Regions from separate parts of the Homo sapiens genome. Here regions 1, 2 and 4 are each linked to region 3. The links come from fine-mapping of genetic effects on gene expression. A gene starts in region 3. Each other region holds a variant in brackets. All regions are shown on one strand. Distances are between the middles of the regions.

The links. PIP is the estimated chance that this variant, and not a neighbour inherited with it, causes the effect.
Region 1: its variant is the best candidate, but not a certain one, in a credible set for the expression of CAPRIN2 in whole blood (TOPMed, PIP 0.71).
Region 2: its variant is the best candidate, but not a certain one, in a credible set for the expression of CAPRIN2 in whole blood (TOPMed, PIP 0.64).
Region 4: its variant is the best candidate, but not a certain one, in a credible set for the expression of CAPRIN2 in whole blood (INTERVAL, PIP 0.79).

The regions. Positions count from the first base shown.
Region 1 is chr12:30,623,437-30,627,471 of GRCh38, reverse strand. No RefSeq gene overlaps it. Among named protein-coding and RNA genes, the nearest start is that of IPO8, 70 kb to the left of the region's middle. The variant A/G (reference allele first, on the strand shown) is at 1,809.
Region 2 is chr12:30,586,341-30,590,375 of GRCh38, reverse strand. All of the region lies in intron 1 of LOC105369719 (a long non-coding RNA gene), which reads left to right. Among named protein-coding and RNA genes, the nearest start is that of IPO8, 110 kb to the left of the region's middle. The variant A/G (reference allele first, on the strand shown) is at 1,695.
Region 3 is chr12:30,753,108-30,757,142 of GRCh38, reverse strand. It overlaps CAPRIN2 (caprin family member 2), which reads left to right and starts at 2,192. Exons shown (of 19, transcript NM_001385503.1): 1 at 2,192-2,392; 2 at 3,584-3,799. The coding sequence starts at 3,623. LOC645485 (a long non-coding RNA gene) reads right to left here and starts at 2,069. Exons shown (of 2, transcript NR_135046.1): 1 at 1,872-2,069. RefSeq lists silencers at 664-867, 1,959-2,638 and enhancers at 2,566-2,735, 2,739-2,818.
Region 4 is chr12:30,717,799-30,721,833 of GRCh38, reverse strand. CAPRIN2 (caprin family member 2) reads left to right here. Exons shown (of 19, transcript NM_001385503.1): 13 at 919-1,023; 14 at 2,609-2,755. Among named protein-coding and RNA genes, the nearest start is that of IPO8, 24 kb to the right of the region's middle. The variant TAAAA/A (reference allele first, on the strand shown) is at 1,742.

The DNA of each region.
Region 1 (4,035 bases), 130 kb after region 3:
GTGATATTCCCCTTCCTGTGTCCATGTGATCTCATTGTTCAATTCCCAGCTATGAGTGAGAATATGCGGTGTTTGGTTTTTTGTTCTTGCGATAGGAAAACAGTTATTTTAAATTGTCATTAAGTAATATAATGAATTATAGTACAGTTTTCTGTTTAGCAAGGGAGACTGAATAATCCAGGCATAAAAGGGAAACTTGGCCATGTATTAGGACCATGTGCGTGCAAGTGTGTGTATGCATGAATGTTTCGTGCATTAAAAATTATTCCAGATGAGCCTTAAATAGCAGTCTTTTCTGTTCCACCTTACTCTCTCCGTTGAGACTGCTGTACAAATGCTGCCTGGGTGGATTGGGAAATTTCTAGGCAGTCTGCTAGCAAGAAAGGCTGCAAAATCAATAAATAAAGAGATGGCTTATACTCTGTAGATAGACTATGTTTGAGGAAGAAGCACAAAGGGCAACTATGGCTGTCTCACTTTGTTGCCCAGGCTGGAATGCAATGGTGCGATCACAATTCACTGCAGCTTGATTTCATGGGGTCAAGTGAGTGATTCTACATTAGCTTCCTGAGTAGCTGGGAGTACAGGCAAGCACCACCATGCTTGGCTATTTTTTAAATTTTTTGTAGAGACAGGGACTCAATATGTTGCCCAGGCTTGTCTCGAACTCCTGGCCTTGAACTATCTTTCCACCCTGGCCTCACAAAGAGCTGGAATTGGAAGTGTGAGGCCACCTGGCCACCCTAAGTAATTTGGCCCTTCCTCAGCTATCTCACTGTGTGCAACTTCTTGGAAAGTACGCTCCAGTTGCCTTTTTTCACTGCCTCCAATTCAGTGGTTTCTTCTTCCAATTGGTCCCTGGGCTTTTCTTTGATTGAAAGTTTTAAATTACTGATTCAGTCTCCTTATTTGTTATTGATCTGTTCAGGCTTTCTATTTCTTCTTGATTCAATCTTGGTAGCTTGTATGTTTCTAGGAATTTACTCATTTCTTCTAGGTTGTCCAATGTGTTAACATGTAATTGTTCATATTAGTTCCTTTTAAAAATTTCTTTGGCATTGGTTATATCTCCTATTTCTGATTTTATCTTATTTTTTCCTAGTTTAGTTAAGGGTTTGTTGATTTTGATTATCTTTTTTAAAAAACTTTTCAGTTTGTCGATTTTTCTTTTGTTTTCTGGTCTTCATTTATTTCTGCTCTAGTCTTTATTATTTCCTTCTTTCTGCTAGTTTTGGGCTTATTTCTTTTTCTAGTTCCTTCAGGTATGATGTTAGGTTGTTTGAGATCTTTTTTAATGTAGACATTTATACACTTTTTTAATGTAGACATTTATACACTTCCATTTCAGCACTGCTTTTGCCGCCTCCCATAAGTTTTGGCATGTTATGTTTTTGTTTGTCTCACAATATCTTCTAATTTTTAAAATTTCTTCTTTGACCCAATGGTTGAATATATTGTTTAGTTTCCATGTATTTGTGAATTTTTCCAGTTTTCTTTTATTGATTTCTAGTTTCATTTCTTTGTAGTCAAAAAAGATAATTGAAATTATTTCAGTCTTCTTAAATTTGTCAGAACTTGTTTTGTGACCTTGCATGTAATCTATCTTGGAGAATCTTTCATGTGCAGTTGAGAGGAATTTTTATTCTGCTGCCGTTAGGTAGAAGGTTCCGTACATGTCTGTTAGCTCCATTTGGCCTATAGTGTTATTCAAAACCACTGTTTCTTTATTTCTCTAATGTCTGGATGAACTATTATTGAAAGTGGGGTATTGAAGTCTCCTAATACATTCTACTCCTATTTCTCCCTTC[A/G]TATTTATCAATGTGTGCTTTATATATATAGGCGCTCTGATGTTGGGTGCATATATAATTGTTACGTCTTCCTGTTGAATTGACCCTTTTATCATTATGTAATGACCTTCTTTGTCTCTTGTGACAGTTTTTGACTTGAAGTCTTTTTGTCTAATATAAGAAAAGCTGCTTACGCTCTGTTTTGGTGACCATTTGCATGATATATCTTGTTTCATCCCTTCACTTTCAGCCTACGTGTGTCCTTAAAGCTAAAGTGAGTCTTTTGTAGACACCCTATAATTAGATCTTGCTTTTTAATCCATTCAGCTACTCTGTATCTTTGATTGGGGAATTTAATACATTTACATTTAAAGAAATTATTGATTGGTAAGAACTGACTACTGCCATTTTGTTCATTGGTTTCTGTTTTGTGGTTCTTTTGTTCCTCTCTTCCCCTCTTGCTGTCTTTGTGATTTGATAATTTTTTATGGTTATATACTCGGATTCTTTTCCCTTTCTTGTATCTGCTGAAGATTTTTTCTTTGTAGTTACTGTGAAGCTTGCATAACCCTCCTTAGAATTGTACCAGTCTATTTTGAGCTGATAACTTCAATCACATACAAAAACTACACTTTTACTCTCCCATTCCCCAGTTTGTTATTGATGTCAGAATTTGCTTTTTATGTTGTGTATCCATTAACCAATATTTTGTGGTTATATTCTTAATACTTTTGTCTTTTATGCTGGGGTTAAAAGTGATTTATGCACCACCATTACAATATTACATTATTCTGTATTTGTCTATGTATTTACCCTTAGCAGTGAGATTTATACTTTCATATGCTTTTGTGTTGCTATTTAGCAAGAAGCTGATTTTTTTATTAATACAAATTATGTACTTTTTTCAAAATAAAGAATTTGTTGTATGTATGTATTACACACAGATTTCCAAACCAGATAACCCAGTGTTGGCCAATCGCAGTAATCAAAACTACAAATTTAATTTCATAATTTTTAGCTCCTTGCAGCTGCTGCTGTCAGACAACCCTCAGCTGGGTGGTGTCAGGATTGGTAGCATTTTCAAATAAAACAAGAAATTTAACATCAATAGGTACCAGCAAGAAGTGTTTATTTCTTCATGAGGGTGTTGTGTACTTCGGGGGAATAAGACCAATTTTCATTTTGGTAGTTAAATGGGTTGCATTTGAAACCTTTGCTGTGAGGCACCATATTTCCAATGAGTGAAGTTTTAGACTCTTTACATTTGGTACCACAAGTACCATTAATGGGGTTGTGGCTGGGCAGTATAGTCAAGTGATTCTCTGAAGGCAGAAATAAATAAGCAGATCGTTTACTTTTTCAGTATAACTCCACTTGTTAGGCTTTTAGCCTCTTCTTTCAACATAGGTTTAATAAATAGGGAATAATCTTAACTAGCCACCACTGCCAGGTGGTGCTACTTCCCTTTCTGCTGTTTCATGATCCCACCACACTGTGTTAATCCTCACCAGTGGTTGTCCTGTGATTGGCTGCTGTATTATAGGCTGCGGTAAGCAGAATAGTGACTCCCGAACCACGACCCCCAAACACGCAAAGATGTCTACGTCCTAATCCTTGGAAACTGTAAAAATGTAACTTTACATGGCAAAGGGGAATTAAGATTCCAGATAGAATTCAGTTTGCTAATCAGCTGATCTTAAAACAGGGAGAGTATCCTGGGTTATCTACATGCACCCAATGTAATCATGGAGTTTCTTAAAAGTGGGAGAGGGAGGCAGAAGAGAAGGCTGGAGTGACAAGATTTGAGGACTGAGTCCATTATTGCTGATTTTGAAGACGGAGGAAGGGCACGGTGAGCCAACAAATGCAGGCAGCCTTTAGAAGCTGGAAAAGGCAAGGAAACAGTCTCCTAGAGTCTCCAGGATGAAATGTCGACCTACCAACACCTTCATTTTAGCCCAGTGAGACCCATCTAGGACTGCTGACCTCTAGAACTGTAAGACGATACATTTGTAGGTTGTAAGCCATTACGTTAGTGGTAATTTGTTACAGCAACAATAGAAAGTAAATATACAGACTGGTGGAGGACAGATGCAGGAGAATTCTCATCTTTGAAGACTGAAGTATTGATTAATATTTTGGGCTGGACATTTAAATTTCTAAATCAAGATTATGTTTTACAAATATTAAGTGATTTTGAGGCTTGTTTCCTAAGCATGATCAGAAAATCCTCAGGTCTGCTAGGGAT
Region 2 (4,035 bases), 170 kb after region 3:
TACCAGTTGTTCCTTTCCATGTTTAGTGCTTCCTTCAGGAGCTCTTTTAGGGCAGGCCTGGTGGTGACAAAATCTCTCAGCATTTGCTTGTCTGTAAAGTATTTTATTTCTCCTTCACTTATGAAGCTTAGTTTGGCTGGATATGAAATTCTGGGTTGAAAATTCTTTTCTTTAAGAATGTTGAATATTGGCCCCCACTCTCTTCTGGCTTATAGAGTTTCTGCCGAGAGATCTGCTGTTAGTCTGATGGGCTTCCCTTTGTGGGTAACCCGACCTTTCTCTCTGGCTGCCCTTAACATTTTTTCCTTCATTTCAACTTTGGTGAATCTGACAATTATGTGTCTGGGAGTTGCTCTTCTCGAGGAGTATCTTTGTGGCGTTCTCTGTATTTCCTGAATCTGAATGTTGGCCTGCCTTGCTAGATTGGGGAAGTTCTCCTGCATAATATCCTGCAGAGTGTTTTCCAACTTGGTTCCATTCTCCCCATCACTTTCAGGTACACCAATGAGACGTAGATTTGGTCTTTTCACATAGTCCCATATTTCTTGGAGGCTTTGCTCATTTCTTTTTATTCTCTTTTCTCTAAACTTCCCTTCTCCTTTCATTTCATTCATTTTGTCTTCCATCACTGATACCCTTTCTTCCAGTTGATCGCATCAGCTCCTGAGGCTTGTGCATTCGTCACATAGTTCTCGAACCTTGGCTTTCAGCTCCATCAGCTCCTTTAAGGACTTCTCTGCATTGGTTATTCTAGTTATCCATTCGTCTAATTTTTTTTCAAAGTTTTTAACTTCTTTGCCATTGGTTTGAATTTCCTCCTGTAGCTCAGAGTAGTTTGATCGTCTGAAGCCTTCTTCTCTCAACTCGTCAAAGTCATTCTCCGTCCAGCTTTGTTCTGTTACTGGTGAGGAGCTGTGTTCCTTTGGAGGAAGAGAGGTGCTCTGCTTTCTAGGGTTTCCTGTTTTTCTGCTCTGTTTTTTCCCCATCTTTGTGGTTTTATCTACTTTTGGTCTTTGATGATGGTGACATACAGATGGGTTTTTGGTGTGGATGTCCTTTCTGTTTGTTAGTTTTCCTTCTAAGAGACAGGACCCTTAGCTGCAGGTCTGTTGGAGTTTGCTAGAGGTCCACTCCAGACCCTGTTTGCCTGGGTATCAGCAGCGGTGTTTGCAGAACAGTGGTTTTTCGTGAACCGCAAATGCTGCTGTCTGATCGTTCCTCTGGAAGTTTTGTCTCAGAGGAGTACCCGGCCGTGTGAAGTGTCAGTCTGCCCCTACTGGGGGGTGCCTCCCAGTTAGGCTGCTTAGGGGTCAGGGGTCAGGGACCCACTTGAGGAGGCAGTCTGCCCGTTCTCAGATCTCCAGCTGCATGCTGGGAGAACCACTGCTCTCTTCAAAGCTGTCAGACAGGGACATTTAAGTCTGCAGAGGTTACTGCTGTCTTTTTGTTTGTCTGTGCGCTGCCCCCAGAGGTGGAGCCTACAGAGGCAGGCAGGCCTCCTTGAGCTATGGTGGGCTCCACCCAGTTCGAGCTTCCCGGCTGCTTTGTTTACCTAAGCAAGCCTGGGCAATGGCGGGCGCCCCTCCCCCAGCCTGGCTGCCGCTTTGCAGTTTGATCTCAGACTGCTATGCTAGCAATTAGGGAGACTCCGTGGGCGTAGGACCCTCTGTGCCATGTGCGGGATATAATCTCCT[A/G]GTGTGCCGTTTTTTAAGCCCGTTGGAAAAGCGCAGTATTAGGGTGGGAGTGACCCGATTTTCCAGGTGCAGTCTGTCACCCCTTTCTTTGACTAGGAAAGGGAACTCCCTGACCCCTTGAACTTCCCGAGTGAGGCAATGCCTCATCCTGCTTCGGCTCACGCACGGTGCGCTGCACCCACTGTCCTGCACCCACTGTCTGGCACTCCCTAGTGAGATGAACCTGGTACCTCAGATGGAAATGCAGAAATCACCCATCTTCTGCGTCGCTCACGCTGGGAGCTGTAGATCGGAGCTGTTCCTATTTGGCCATCTTGGCTCCACCCTCATTTATCTGCCTATGGTACTTTTATAAGATCAATCTGGAAGAGGTATGAAAAAGTGTTCCTGAGATCAAAATGATTTCAGAGGGTCTTTAAAGAACTAGGTGATACTTGTAGCAATAAAGCTTTTATTAGAATAAAGATTATGCCTCATTCCTGGCAAGTAGAGAGAGGAGGATTTCATCTTTGTGTACACAAATTTGATTAGACTAAAAAGCCATAAAAGTTTGGCATCTGTCTTGCTGTAACTAAATGAATTAGAAATATAAATTTTTGGACCAAAAGCTACAGTTTGCTGAGCCATCATTCTTTTATTTTATTTTAAACAATTTGATGCTGCTAGGTAGTACCCAAATAGAAGGTTTTGGAATTAAGGAGCAAAAGTGCTGAGCTGGGTATTTAGTAACTACCACAGGCAAAGAGGCTTGCATTAGGCTTTTAGCAGAGCGCATTGTCTGATTGGTGTCTCAGCAGTGTTGGTACCATCCTCTATTTAACTGACCTTGAAAACAGAAAATTCAACTAGATTTTATGGAGGGCTTATATATACTCAAGTGCTGTCAGGGTAGATAGAAGTCTATGAGATGAAGACCCAATGCTTAAAAAATCTATAGCACATTAGATTCTAGCCACTCCTATCTACTGAAGTAATTCTGCAATTCTCATGCCTTTTTATGACAGTTCTGGGGGATCAGTCCCATGCTGGAATGCTCAATAAAGAATTATAAGCATGCTAGATGGCAGAGAATGCCAACTTATTACAAAGACTTGCTGCAGTATTCCACAAAAAAGTATGATGCGTGGATGAGAATGATGATATCCCATTTCTATGAATTAAATAGAAGGGGAGCATTATAACTGTTTTGCAAATGAGGAGACTGAGTCAGACAGAGGCTAGAAGGATCTGCCTAGACATACTAGTAATAAGTATTTAGTAAAGGCTTTCACCTGCAGCTTTTTTTCTTCTTAAGATTCTGGTCATGAGTATCTTCTTTTCTATTACAAAATCTTTGTTCATCAGGCTGTATGGAAGATTATTTTTCAGCAAATTTCCAGTCCTTCCCTTGCCTCAACCTCTATGGGTACCTTCTCTCCTTGGTGCACGTGCTTGACTTTGGGCTTAGCCACCTGGATTGCCTTAGCCAATGGGATGACCACAGATGTGAGCAGAAGCTTAGAATGTGCTTGCATATTTAGGTGTGGTCTCTTGAGCTCTTGTCTTTCACTATGAACAGAATATGCTGTGAGTACTGCTAATCTAAGAAAGACAAGAGACGTGGAAAGGCCTGGGCCCAGCCATGGAGTTAGGAGTCAGGCCCAGCCAAGCCTAGCCCAGATTAGCCAAACCTACAAGTCAGTAAGTGAGTGAGTAATAGATGGCTGCAAACCACTGAAATTTCCAGGTTGTTTTGTTAAATACCCTTGTTTTGGTCATACGAAATTAATACATACTTTTGTAAAGGTGCAACATAGTTATGGGTAGCACATTGCAGCACACAATGCTCATGTACTACATACACTGGAAACAGAATGAGAATGGAGGAGCCTTGATGAAATGAATGACTTGAAGAAATGGCACAGGACTGGAAATCAGAAGACTTGGGTTGTCGTGAGGTTTCGACCTTCTATTCTTATGAAGTTTTGACTCTGTGTCAGGTGTGTTTCTAGCAGTTTTAACTCATCCAATTCTCATAACAATTGTTTGAGGTAAGTGCATTATTATTCCCACTTTAAGGTTGAGGAAATTGAGGCACAGAAGGATTAAGAAACTAACCAAGATCTCATAGCGAGTAAGTAGCTGAACTGACCTTGGTACCAGACAGTGTCATGGATGCCTCATGCGCCACCCAGATTTCCTGTTCAGAACTGAAGTGCTCACTCCTTCAGCCTCTGGGAGAGCTGGCTCCTGGTGGCTGTCAGGTGTGTCCCTCTCTGGACATTGTTCTTGACCAAAGGGAGCTGCCTTGCCCAAAGTTAGATCCTTTATTGGGGTTAGCCCATAACCAATATCTGGTCAA
Region 3 (4,035 bases):
TAAACATCTGTTGAATGAATAAATGAATATATTCTTCTATCAATGATTCGAGACAACACTTTTTATCATATTTCCAATATAGTTATTCCTTGCTAAGCTTGGAGGTGGCATGCCACAGATACTGCCTCACAGTTGGCAAGAAAAGTCACGGTCTTACAGAAAATAGGGAGTGGGAGAGGGTAAAATAAACTAAACTCCTGACAAATAAAAGTTTTGGGGACATGTGCTTTCAAAGTAAGCCAGACTTACTGACTTTAAAGATCTCCTCTAGCAGAAAAGCTTTTATCTGAATCATCTTTTTAACTTGTTCAGAAGACATTGCTTCAAGAGTATCTACTGTGGTATGTTCTCCTACAAATGTCACGCCATACGTATACAGACTGTACCCTACTGGACTTGAAATTCAATTATTTTTGCTTTTGCATTCTTTCGTGATGCATTTTTATAATCCTTCCTGAGAAGTAAATCTGTATGGATTTATTCATTTAGAAGAATATCCATTTAGTAGAAAATTTAAAATTTACGGCCTCCTTTTTGCCTGACCGATTAGAAGGCAAACATTTCTTTCTTTCTTTCTTTTTTTGAGATAGAGTCTTGCTCTGTCACCCAGGCTGGAGTGCAGCGGCACAATCTCGGCTCACTGCAGCGTCCGTCTCCGGGTTTCAAGCGATTCTCCTGCCTTAGCCTCTGAGTAGCCATGATTACAGGCACATGCCGCCATGCTCGGCTAATTTTTGTATTTTTAGTAGAGATGGATATTCACCACGCTGGCCAGCCTGGCCTCGAACTCCCGACCTCAGGTGATCCACCCCGCCTCGGCCTCCCAAAGTGCTGGGATCACAGGCTTGAGCCACTGCGCCGGCAGGGGGCAAACATTTCATGATTAATCTGACTGAAATACCATTTTTAGGTTCATCATTAGCTCGGACTACAACTCAGGCTGTGCTGTAACTTTGTGTCAACTCATTGATCCAACAGTGTGTCCTTCACATTTTTTCTTATGGCCACTGTTTTTTGTGTTACCAAAGGTGAAGGCATAGCCTTCCTCTCCTCATGTTCAGCATCTTCTGCGTTTCTCTGTTTATAAACAATGAGAAAAAGGGAAAATCTAGTATTTCTCTGACCCTGAAGAACACATATGGGATTCAGAGATTCAAAGTTAAAATGCAACATTAGGGTACATTATGTCACCAGGGACCGAAAAGAACACGGATAATAGATGCCAAAAAAATGTATTAAGTAATGTTAAAATTAATTTGTGTGAAGTTGACCAAGGCTTTTAAAACTAGACCTTTGTTTCCTTGATTCTTCTTCTGAATTTTCTGTTCTTTTGCTAGTCTCAATATTTTTTATCAGAGCGTCAGGGACAATCAGGACCTAAAAAACTCCACTTGGTGTAATAAGTAAACACATGTTGGGGCAAAGTATTGCTGAGTGTGTGTGTGTGTTTCTTATTTGGTATCAGAAACACCTTCCTTTCCTCAATAAACTTTTACATATTTCCAGACTTTTCTCTTAATTTTATGTAACCTTACAAAGATTTTTTACAGCTTTCTCTGCGTGCCAGTCAATTAATGTGTGTCACATGAACAAATAATACGGCTTGAATAAACTCAATCCTATTATTGCAGGTTGCGAAGTCACCTACTCCGTTTTTATGGCGATGCTGATTTGGGGCATTCTGCTCTTACAGGCTGATTCCCCGGTAAGGAAACGGTGTTTTTTCCCCATCCTACTATGAAAGATGCTATCTGAGGGGCAAAGGCGCATCTGCATTTCACGACTACCCACTAGGCTACGACAGCCTCAAGCATGGCTTATCTGGTAGTTCCGCGAAGGGCTCGCTGCCCTCCTGGAGCTATTGGAGTCACCTGTTCAAGGTCGCGAAACCACCGGTGCCGCCGGCAATCAGCGAGGTCCAGCGGGGCTGCGCGGTTTCCGGCCTGCCGGCGTTCGGCGTCGCCTCGGCCCCACCTGGTGCCCCGCAATCTGCGCAAAGGCTGGGAGACCGCGCCCTCTCCCGACCTACCACCAGCCCAAGCTGGGCCCGGAACTAACACCCGACAAGCGCTGGCGGCCAGCTGCAGCCGGGAAGGAGCACCGGAAGGAGGCGGTGGCGGGGCGGCCGAGGGCGGAGCGGGCCGGGGCGGGGCGCGGCCTACAAAAGCCACGCGCGGCGCGGTGGGCGGGCCTGGGCGCGAGCGGCTGAGTCGGCTGGGTCTCTGGCGCCGCAGAGGCCGCGGGCGAGGACCGGGAGGGGAGAGGGAGGAGACAGGAGGAGGAGACGCGAGTGCGGGGTGGCGCCGGTCCACCTCCGCAGCGCTCCTGCCTCCCCCAGGCTTTGGAAGGCGGGCCCGGGCTGCGGCAGCGGCGGCCTCGGCTGCCTGGGGAGGTGAAGTCGGGCTGCGGCGGCCTCGGTCGGCGCGGCGGAGGGAGGCGGCTGACCCGGCGAGGGTGGGCAGGTCTGGGCGGCCGGCGCCGCTGCGAGGTGGAGGGGCGGCTTGGCATCCCCGGGGCGGGGCGGGGCTCCCGAGGGCCGCGGTCGGTGCGTTTTCCGCAGGTCAGCCTCCCCCGGGGCCTTGCAGAAGCGGCTTCTGCGTACCCGGGGCGGCTGTGGGAAGGGTGGGGGTCGGTGCCTGCAGGGCTCTCCGTGGCCGCTCGGGAGAGGTGCTCTTCGCTCAGGCTCCCCCGGAGACTTGAGGGGGTGCGCGCTGGCGTGCATGGGGCCTGTTCTGTCCTTGGTTTGGGGATGCTCCTAAGGGGGGAGAAAGGGATACCTCGGGTGCTTGGAGGTCGAGAGACGGATACGTAAGTGCGCAAGGGCCACTGATTAGGGCACGGGAAGGGCTCGCTAGAATGAGCTCTTAAACTGGTTGGGTGTAAGCGGTTTTGGGCTAGTCTAAACCAAACAACTGAGAATAAACGCGGGGTTCCTGCAGGTTGAGAGAGTACCTGTCTGCAAATGTCCAGTAGTGATGGATTGCCTTGTAGGCCCCAGAGCAATCGGGGAAGTTAGCATTCTTGTTCAAGAAGCTGCTGGTTCACTTAGAGCTATAAAAGAATGTTGTGAGTTTGGATTTTCTTCCAAACGTTCAGGATTGAGGTTAGGGCTGGTGGTGAGGGATCATGTAAAGAGGTTTGAGTGGCTCAGCCTTAGGTCCCGGTGTGGAAAGCTTATTCTTTTGGTGTCATCACGTGGCCATGGGAATTATTTAGAATGTGATCTGCCCTCATGAGAAGAAAGGAGCTCTGAAGCCGTTGCAGTTCTTCCTCCCTATGTGGAAAATCGAATTTCTGGAAACATCCTCCGTATTGGGAGATTTTGCCTATGTAAAGGCTATCCTTATTGGCTAGCGGCACTAATTACTTTAAAAGTAGGATGGAAGTACAAGTATCTCAAGCATCATTGGGTTTCGAGCTCACTTCTGTGGAAAAGAGTTTAAGGGAGTGGTCTAGACTTTCCAGGGAAGTTATTGCCTGGCTGTGTCCCTCTAGTCCTAATTTTATACTTAACTTTCCCCCACCTCCTTCAGCCTCATCTGTTTCAATGGTGCAACTCTTTTCATCCCCTTTTGGTTACCAGTCACCTTCAGGCCATTCAGAGGAGGAAAGAGAGGGGAATATGAAGTCAGCCAAGCCCCAAGTGAACCACAGTCAGCATGGGGAAAGCCAGCGGGCCTTGAGCCCCCTGCAGTCTACTCTGAGTTCTGCTGCATCTCCTTCCCAAGCGTATGAGACCTATATTGAAAATGGACTCATATGCCTTAAACACAAAATTAGAAACATCGAGAAAAAGAAGGTAACTTTTTTTCTTCCAGTCCTGTAGATGCATGATCTTAAAGATTAAGGAGCTGACATTTTTCTTTCAGAGCTCATAGGTGTTCTCTACTAAAAATTTAACTAACCTTAGGTTTAGCTGCTTTAAACAAGCAGGTTACGTGTTGGAAATATTAAACATTTTCTGTTTCATTTGTCAAAACAACGGAATAAAAATATTCTTCATAGTTACATTATGCATGCTGCTGTTGAAATACT
Region 4 (4,035 bases), 35 kb after region 3:
AAAACTCAATCCCCAGTCTCCTTCCTAAAAAGCAACATATCATAATGCCTCCTTCAAGAAGGTCACTGAAACATGATTTCTCTGTTTTGTAACCCTTCATTAGTTTCCAGTTCACCTATTTTATTACTTGGGCTTCTGAGAACCACATAGAAGCATTTAGATAAAAGGAGTGGATTCACTGACACTTTAGATCTTGCTATTGCCAGATTTTTATGGGTGTCTCTCTGCTGTATTTGAATACCTGTTGTGCGATAGAATTCTTTCCTAGCCACTCTTTTAATTTTCTGTTGGTTACAGTTGTCACAACTTTTTTTCCTAATGTGCTTTCTCCCAATTTTTATTTTACATATGCTATCAGCTTGATTTTTCACTAGAATTTTTGGTGCCATTCTGATTTATGTAGAGCTTATTCTTCCTATTTATATTTCAGCCTGCCTCTTTAGGATGCTGATAGCACTTAGCATGAAAGCACAGTTATACTATGATCTCTGGCAGAGCTGTGCCTACAGTGTTAAACGTACCCGGAGCTCACCTTCCCGTGAATGCTATCTACTACAGGGCCAAGAATCAGTGAACATGGGATGAGATGTGTAGTTTTGGTGACCAGGCCTGGACAGGCAGTGTAGCTAGCTGGCTGCTTGAGTTTGAATCTCAGCTCTGCCACTTAATTGTAGTATGATCTTGGGCAAATGTCTTAACCTTTCTTTGCCACTGCTTAATTGTCAATAAAATGAGAATAGTACCTACCTCACAGATTACTGTTAGGATTAAATATATTAACACGTATAAAGTGTTTAGCAGAGTGCTTGACACATGTGCGTGTTCAGTAAGAGTAACATATTAGGAAGGCCAGGGCCCAAGAAATATAAAGTGAACAAAATGTGCCTTTTACAATATTTTGTATTTTCCTGTGTCTAGGCTACTTCTTCTCCAGTTACTTGTAGCTCAAATGCTTGCTTGGTTACTACCGATCAGGCTTCTTCTGGATCTGAAACAGAGTTTATGACCTCAGAGACTCCTGAGGTAAAAGACCAATTGTCTTAATTTCTTTTGTATCTTAAAGAATAGCAGAACCAGTTTATCTTATGAATTACAGGCATGATTAGTTGAATGATGTAACATTTATACTTTATTAATGTATTGCTTTCTATAGATATTGTGATCTTGGAACTTTTACAGGTAACTTTATTGTAGCTTTGCCATATAAATAGATTTAATATGGTATTGCCTTATCTAGTGCAATAAATGTCCATTTTTAATCTAAAAAAATGAAAAGTGTAGGTAGCATTAAGTCAAGTTTTCCACTATATTTACACTGAAGGACTTTTAGGAGAAAAGTCTCTTATTTGTATAAATGAAAGCTCAATAACTTTATTTTATTAATATTAGCACTTATTGAGTTGGAATGAGTTACAATCTTGTTTTGGCTAACTTTGTCAAAAATATTTTCGGTCAGATGCAGTGGCTCACACCTGCAATCCCAGCACTTTGGGAGGCCGAGGCAGGTGGATCACTTGAGGTCAGGAGTTCAAGACCAGCCTGGCCAACATGGTGAAGCCCCATCTCTACTAAAAATACAAAAATTAGCTGGGTGTGGTGGCTCATGCCTCTAGTCCCAGGTACTCAGGAGGCCGAGGACAGAGAATTGCTTGAACCCAGGAGGCGGGGGTTGCAGAGATTGTGCCACTGCACTTCAGCCTGGGTGACAAAGTGATACTTCATCTCAAAAAAAATAAATAAA[TAAAA/A]ACATTTTAACAGTATTATGTTTGTGCTTTCAATTTCAATTCTAAGTTACAGTTTTTACTAAGTTTGAGTAAATCCTTGAGATGGACATAGTAGGATGAATTTTGAGGAGTAATTTAGCAACTATCAGGTATTTTTTGTTAACTGTTATAGAAGAATATGTATTCATTATAGAATATAAGAAAATATAGATAATCCTTAGTTTTTATGGTGCTGGCTTGATCTGAATTTAAATTATCTCATTCCTCATTTTAAGAAGAGGAAGAAGTGATTGTTACCAAGTAACTCACAGCTGTCTGCTTCACAATCTAGTTGAGATTGGTTTTTGGTATTTTTTTTAAGCCTTTGGATTTATAATCTGTTATGTCAAGAACTTGTGGCTTCCTTAGGTAAGGATTACTTAAATTGGATCGGAGTTGTTTTCTGTTTTAGGTAGCTGACTTAGAAACCTACTAACTAATAAGTCTTTAAAATAGAGAAAAATTAACACTAAACAACTAATCCAAGTTTTTTCTTAAATCCAATTCTGATGTATAAATTTTGAATAATATTAGGTTCTTAACTGGAAATTACCATTTCAGGGTTTGAAAAGGACTAGGTGCGTATAAAAAGTTCAGCCCCTCATCTGTTAGACTGATTATTGGTAAGACTCTTTCACTTAGTCAGCAAGCTGTGCAAAGCAAATACTGGTATGCATCCTCAGCAATTGAGATTTGAAATTGTAAGCAAAAGCTATTCTTTTGCATTCCTGTGTCCAAATGTCATCCTAAAGAACTTGCTGACTTATGCCAGTTTGGGTTTTAGAGTAAGTTAACTGCTTGTTATATGGCAGGTGATTGGCTGATGCTGCATTTCTCCTCCCCAGGCAGCAATTCCCCCAGGCAAGCAACCGTCTTCACTAGCTTCTCCAAATCCTCCCATGGCAAAGGGCTCTGAACAGGGCTTCCAGTCACCTCCAGCAAGTAGTAGTTCAGTAACCATTAACACAGCACCCTTTCAAGCCATGCAGACAGTGAGTATGAAACATGAATGATGATTGCAGTTCATTATTCCTGTTAAAAGCCATTGTTTCTCTTACATAATTATTGGATACTATGTGAAAAGTTTGCCTTTTGTAAAATTTATTTGGGTTGGTAGAATTATATTTGGCCAATGGCAGTACTTGTTTGTGGCAGAAGAATAGGAAATCCACAGCCTCTAGAATTTTAAATGGGTGTTTTATCAGAGCATTATTCCTTCTTTTAGAATTAGTAGCAGGCAAAGCTGAGGATCCATATTAAACAAACAAAATGTGTGGGTGAGAAACAGAATTTCTAGCAACAGCTTAATAATACTAACCATTACTAATATCTTTACTAGTATTATTCCCTAACATCAGTAACCTGAAATACCGGACACATACTTGGGTGTTCTGTCATTGCTGAAACTTTCATTTTATTTTATCCTGATCTCAAGATGGTTTTTGGAGATTTGTTCAGATTTGTGTGGTGTTTTGAATTACGTATTTTTCTACAAATTGCAATTAAGGCTTTTTAAAAAAATAATATTACAGCTAGTTTGGTATGTTTATTCTCTAAACACAGACTAGTATAAAACAGTTCTTTGTGGGGGAAAAAAGCCTTAGTGAGCCAATAAGTACCCTTCCTATTGGTGCTTAGTGTCCCACTCCAAGCACTTCGGAGTGATGGTGGTAGTGGGGCCAGTGGAGTAGCATGGAAAGCAGGCACCACCCCGGGAGATCGGCTGGTGAGTCCAGACAGCTGAATTCACTCACCTGATCACTTAGAATATCTTATTTCTAGATAGAATAGTTCCTTGCTTTCACTCTTTTCCTGTCAGTTCATCCTGCACAGTATAGCCACATTGGTTTTACCTTTTCTTTTGTCTAATTAAAAGCAAGCAGTGTTCCATTACAGAATGAAATTTAGTACTCTGACACTCAGTACCTTTTCAAGTCTGTTATAACCTGTCACACTAGTCCCCTGAGCTTGCCTTATATATTCTTGTCACAGTACCTTTTGCTCATGCCAATCTGTTTTCTCTGCCTGTTTGAATCCTACCCGGTACACATTGGTTCTTACTCATTTATTGATTAAAGAATAGTTACAAAACCAGGCACTGTTCTTAATCACTGAGGTTGTAGCAGTGAAAAAAGGAAAGTATGCTCAGGAAACTTAACATTTTAGTATGGAGGTAGGAGGGCTAGGGAGACAAATACCTGTATATCAGGTGCTGTGTGATGTAAAGAAAAATGGAGCAGAATCAGGGAGCTAGAGAGTCATAGAAGGACAG